Linked DNA regions of Homo sapiens: region 1 is linked to region 2. Evidence: fine-mapped expression QTL. A gene starts in region 2. The other region holds a variant in brackets. All regions are shown on one strand. Distances are from middle to middle.

What was found. PIP is the estimated chance that this variant, and not a neighbour inherited with it, causes the effect.
Region 1: its variant is fine-mapped to the expression of RAD51B-AS1 in whole blood (GTEx, PIP 0.97).

What each region holds. Positions count from the first base shown.
Region 1 is chr14:68,709,161-68,712,076 of GRCh38, forward strand. No RefSeq gene overlaps it. Among named protein-coding and RNA genes, the nearest start is that of RAD51B-AS1, 25 kb to the left of the region's middle. The variant T/C (reference allele first, on the strand shown) is at 1,581.
Region 2 is chr14:68,683,649-68,686,564 of GRCh38, forward strand. It overlaps RAD51B-AS1 (RAD51B antisense RNA 1), which reads right to left and starts at 1,792. Exons shown (of 4, transcript XR_007064220.1): 1 at 1,723-1,792. RefSeq lists enhancers at 1-496, 2,080-2,129.

The sequences.
Region 1 (2,916 bases), 26 kb after region 2:
TGTTGTCATCTGTTTACAATTTGATTCTGAGAACTTCTAGAACAGTGGTTCTCAAACATGAACGTGCATTAAAATCACTGCAAAGCTTGGCTGAACTGCCAATTCTTGGATGATGCCCCAAAGGATTCTGGTTCTAGGTGGGGCAGAGCCCAGGAATCAGCTTGTTGAGTACAATTCCAAGGTCACTCAGACACCACCAGTTCCCACACCTCACTTTGGGAGCAAGTTGAGCGTAATGAAGAAAATGGTTAATCATGAGATGTTGCTATAATATTCTAAGGTAGGATTTTTTTCCTTCTCTTAGTGTGCTTGAAAATTACATCCAGCCTTAACACTAATATTGTAAGATAATCAAATTACCTACATCTCACCATTCTTTTTGTGTGTTTGAGACAGGACCTGTCTGTATCACCCAGGCTCTGTATCACAAGTATAGCTCACTGCAGCCTCAAACTCCTGGACTCAAGTGATCCTCCCACCTCAGCCTCCAGAGTAGCTACGACTACAAGCTCACACCACCAATCCCACCTATTTTTTGTAGAGACAGATCTTGCTATATGGCCCAGGCCAGTCTCGAGCTTCTGGCCTCAAGTGATCCTCTTGCCTTGGCTTCCCAATGTGCTAGATTATAGGTGTGAGCCACCGTGCTTGGCACCTATACCTCATTATCCTAACATAATTATCTTTTGCAAACAGCCTTCAACATGCATGCCAACTGATTGCCAAAGGTACATACTGATTTATATTCTACCTTTTCTGTTTACTATGATATAAGAGACATCTTCCACTATGTGGCAAAGGCATTGTCATTATCATTTCTAATGTTTAAATAATATACCACACACAGATTTCCTATAACTTGCACAATTAGTCCTCTAATATTTTATATCTTCTATGTGCTGTATCATTTCCAATTTTTAAGCACAGTGAACATCTTCAAACATGTAGGTTTTTTTTGCTTCTGTTGAATAATTTTTATAGAATTCATTTCCAGAACTGGAATTAGTGGTGTGGTAGGAATCTACAGTGGTTCCCTACAGTGAGAACGCAGTAGAATAAGGACCAAAGACCATTCCTGGGATGACATGAAACATGAATATTGTAATCCCCTATTAAGCCACTTTCTTGAAGCTCTAGGATAAAGGTCACAGTTGGTTTTACAGATCAATTTAAGGTCAGATCATTGAAGAAGTTAGACAAGCAGGGGTTATGAGCTTCTTATAGAATCATGATTTTAATGTAGCATGTGGGGAAGACCTGAGACACTACAGGTACTTAATGTGTTCCAGTATTTGATGCATAATAAAGATACTGCACTTAGCTCATTAACAGCCTGGCATAATTGAATTGCATCATTAAATCATTAACACTCCTTGCCACACCACCCAACATGTCTGGGAACTATCCAGAGGCGTCCCATTGAGTCCTAAGACCTTGGGAAGAGTAGAGCCAACTCCCCCAATTCTCATCCTGCCCTTCCCCAGCTGCTCCACCAGTAGAAGAGGGAAGTGGAGGTCTGGATGTAAGGAAGACCATTAGCCAAGTCTCACCTCCTACCTAGGGCTGCAGTTGTGACAGTG[T/C]GCCGAGGAACCACGGAAAACCGGGAGGAAAAAAACTGGTTGCTCTCCAGATGTGTAATGTGAGGAAGTTATTCTGATCTCGCTTCCTCGAAGATGGGATCTTTGTCTTATTGACACCTCAGTAGGTGTTCCACAAATGGTTGTCCACAGAGTGAATGAATGGATGGCCTTTGCCTAGGCTCATACTGATACCCCAGGCTGCCTCTCCCTGATGTATTCTGTAGGGGGCACTCTCACTTCTGCCTTCGCCGCAGCCACCACTGGAGAAGTAGGCACCTGTGTCTCCATCCTGGGCAGCGCTGGTCTTGGCTTTACTTATCTCCTGGATCTGGTGTTTTGAACCTGACAAAAGGCAGGCATGTGGGTACATTAAAGCACAAACAATGTGCAGTACGTTTATTTGCTGGATGACCATTCCAGCCATTCCAAAGTCCCACTTGAGTGGGGCATTACAGGAACATCCTCCGTCTAGAAATCTGAGCCCTGGTTCTTCTTCTTCAACTGTCTTCTCTATCTCATTCCACCCTGCTTGAGTTCTCCCGCCTGACTGTGCAAGCAGCCTCTCCCTTCAGACCTCTACCTCCTCTTCTGAGATCCAACTACCGCAGCTAGGAAGTCCATTGTAAACCCAGAACCAAGGATGTTTTCCTTTTCCCTGTTTCCTGCTTTTCAACAATGCACAAAACCTCTTTGAGCCTCAGACTGGACTGCCCAAGACCCACCTCCTACAGCACCTAAATCTTCAGCTCTTATTCTCCAGCAATAAGAAATCAGTTCCATACACGTTAAGAGCTTTGGTCCCGGGCCTCAGACCAGATCATTGGTCCCATCAACCTCAGACCATATGTTCACGTGAGGACAGCAGGTGGGAGGCCACCTGCCTTCCCCCATCTGCTTGCCCTGCCTGGGATACTGAAACACAGGTAAAAAGTGGAGAGGCATCTTCCTGTCCCAGCCCAGCTGCTGAGAGGTGAACTAGAGAGGGCGGCCTCGATCCAGTCGGCCCAGATTGAGGCCCAGACTCAGACACCTCCGGGTTCCCACGCTCAGGCAGCAGGCCTGAAGCAGAACTGGTTTCATAATCTCACCTCTGCCCAGTGCTTTTTGCAAAATGATCTGCCATTTGGTTCCCACATCACAATCATACTATTTATCTATGCAAAACAGCACCTCATTAAAAAAGGATGAAACACATCACCATTGGCCCAACCCCTCATTAAGGTATAACGCACAGGCCCTAGGCACACCCAGGGTGGAACCAGCACCCAGACTGGCCAGGGTGTTAGGCCCATGTCACTAGCTCTGTCCCCACCCTCACCCCATTCCTCCTAAGTGA
Region 2 (2,916 bases):
GCAGAAGGACATCGGACTCTGGAGAGGTCTGAAACAAGGGGTGGGGAGAGACAGGCTGGTCAGAGCTGCCTGCAACCTCCCGTATTCTCCTGGATTGGCCTTCCAAAACCCGGGCTGACAGGCTCTTGGTAGGAAAACAGGCCCAGCAAACAAAGGTGTTCTCAAGCCCAGTTCAGTCACTGCCTCTGTCCCATGCTCTTAGTCTCATGGCTCTCAGGAGCAGGACACAAGAGACGGTTATGCCCAAGCACAGAACACTCTTGGAAAGCCATCCTTTCCCTTCTGCTGACATTCTGACCCCCTCAAGGGTTGTCCATGGGGAACAGGCTTTCTGCACCCAATTGACCAAAAAATAACAGAAGCCTTCTCCTTAAGAAAGAGAGCAGGCCAGACACAGTGGCTCACGCCTATAATCCCAGTGCTTTGGGAGGCTGAGGTGGGAGAATTGCTTGAGCCCAGGAGTTCAAGACCAGCCTGGGCAACACAATGAGACCTCGTCTCTACAAAAAAACTTAAAAATTAGCCAGGCATGGTCTCAGCTACTCAGGAAGCTGAGGTGGGAGGATTGCTTGAGCCCAGGAGGCTGAGGCTGCAGTGAGCCGTGATCATGCCACTGCACTCCAACCTGGACAATAAAGCAAAAGATCCTGCCTCAAAAAAGAAGAAAGAGAACAGAGCCCTACAGAGAAGGAAGAAGGCAGGCACATTGTCACTTTTGCTCTCAAGCTCCCTGGATCTCTCCTAGAGGAGAGACCCCCAAACCTGCCTGCACTCCGCAGGAGCTGACTGGGGGAGGACCCTTTCCAGGGACACCTCCCTGGAGGTGCTCTAATATTTGGCTGCTTGGCCATTCTGGGCCAAGAAGACTCCTTCCCTAGCCCAGGACCATTAGTCTCCCTGATGATTGCTGCAGAAAGGCCCAATTTTCAGGGCCCTACCTAGCCCTTCAATACCTTTGAGCCACCCATCTTGTCTGAGCCAGAGTCCTAAAGCCAGTCCTGAGCTTCAAGACCCATGCTTGCCCTGGCCACTGCTTCCCCTGGGAGAGCTGCCTGGCTTCCTGCAGAGAGCTGGCCTGCAAGTTGGAAGGGCATATTCTCCTCCCGGCTCCCTGGCTAAATTGCTATAGAATTTCAGGTCACTCAAGTGAACTTTCTGTGACTATTTTTTCCTCCCTTCAAGATTTATCAACTATTAATTGGAGCCTCTAGATGCCTGCAATGTGGAGGTCCTGAGAATTCAATACAGAATAATACAAATGCAGTTCTTCCTGTGAAGCCTGGACAACCTTTCCCTTCCTTCCTTCCTTCTTTCCTTCCTTCCTTCCTTCCTTCCTTCCTTCCTTCCTTCTTTCTTGAGTTTCCTGATGCCAGCTCCTCAGATGGTGAGCCAGCGGTGGGAAGGTAGTGGTGGGGGTGATTATAAATACAATAAGAAATAAACCCACACACTGCAAAACTCCATGTTAATACTATTAATAGTATTTCCAAATTGCATACAGGTAGAAGACAGTTCCTTAGCAACATGATCGTAATGAGAATTCCACAAGGGCATCTGGAATTTACTCTGTCAGACATTCCAGCTTATCAGGAAATGAAAAGGACCAAGACTATCATATAATGTGCAAACTATGCTAATGCCTATCACTAGTGTATATCAGACCCCAGTTACAGGACTGACCCATGGGACTCCCCTTGTCTCAGCTTTAATCACATGAAGTACCTGAGGCCTGTTGTCCTCCTCGGGGCTCAATGCCTTCTTGCGGCCAGGTCCTTCGTATAATTCAAGAGTTGAAATCACTGTCAACACAGCCCTTTGACTAATGTTCCGGGGTGACAGGCCTGGCACGTGAACACATGAGTGATGCTATTATCCCCCAAATCACAGGTGAGTGAGGTCTCTGGAGATGTCCACCCCCACATGAATTTCCCTTTGTGGTAGCAGTAACATCTGAGTCACTAAGCATGGGGCCACAATTTAGGCTCACTCCCTCCCCTTCCTGTGCCCCAAAAGGGGGCTGAAGGCGGGTCCTCACAGCAGAAAAAGCTCCACTTCCTCCGAGCTCCAGACAGCACATCTCAGCTGTGTTGGGCCTTACAAGGCTGCGGTCAACAGGCACCCAGGTGATGAGGTCTTTCTCAGCCTGTTGTTCTCTTGTTAGCCCTTTGATGTTTCAAAGCTGACGAGGTCAGCATCTTCCAGGCTGCAGGAAACATGCCTGCCAGGTATACCTTTCAAGCAGCTGATTAATATGTCATGTGGTCTCTGGTCAGAGGAGAGTGTAAGGGCTGTTGAAATGACTCACCAGCTCAGCTCCCGTGTCTTTGGGAAACGCTACCCTGTCAGCAAGAGGCCTCCAGCTGAAAAGTAAAGACACAGATCTGAAAGGGTACAGTTCTAGCGTCCAACAAACTATTATACATCCTAAATGAAGTGAGAAATGGTAGGCTCTTCACCTGCCAGGGCCTGGCGGGGCCTGTGTCCCAGGACTGCTTAGGAATCCAAGCCTCGCACTGTTTATCCATTATACTGATGAGAAGCCTGTGAGACAGGGAGGCTTGCTGGGCCTCCAAAGTCCACTTGCTGGCTTGTTACTTGGCACCATCAGATCTACGCTAGGGATGGTGTAACTAGAGCCTTTGAGTGCATGAAAAGTCTGTGGCCTGACAAAGCACTTACTGACCAAGGAAAATCAACTTCAGGTGCAGCAGGAAAGGTCTGGTACCCAGAATGTCTGGGGTTTTGAGACACTGGAAAAGATTGCCTAATAATGTCATGGGCTCCCTTCCCTGGAAATAATCTGAAAATAGGATAAGTTCCCTCCAATCTTGGATGGGTCAACCTCGTCTTGAGGTAAGGAGACGGTTACATCAACCCATGGAGAGGGCCTGTCAGCAACTCTGAGTCTATTAGAGG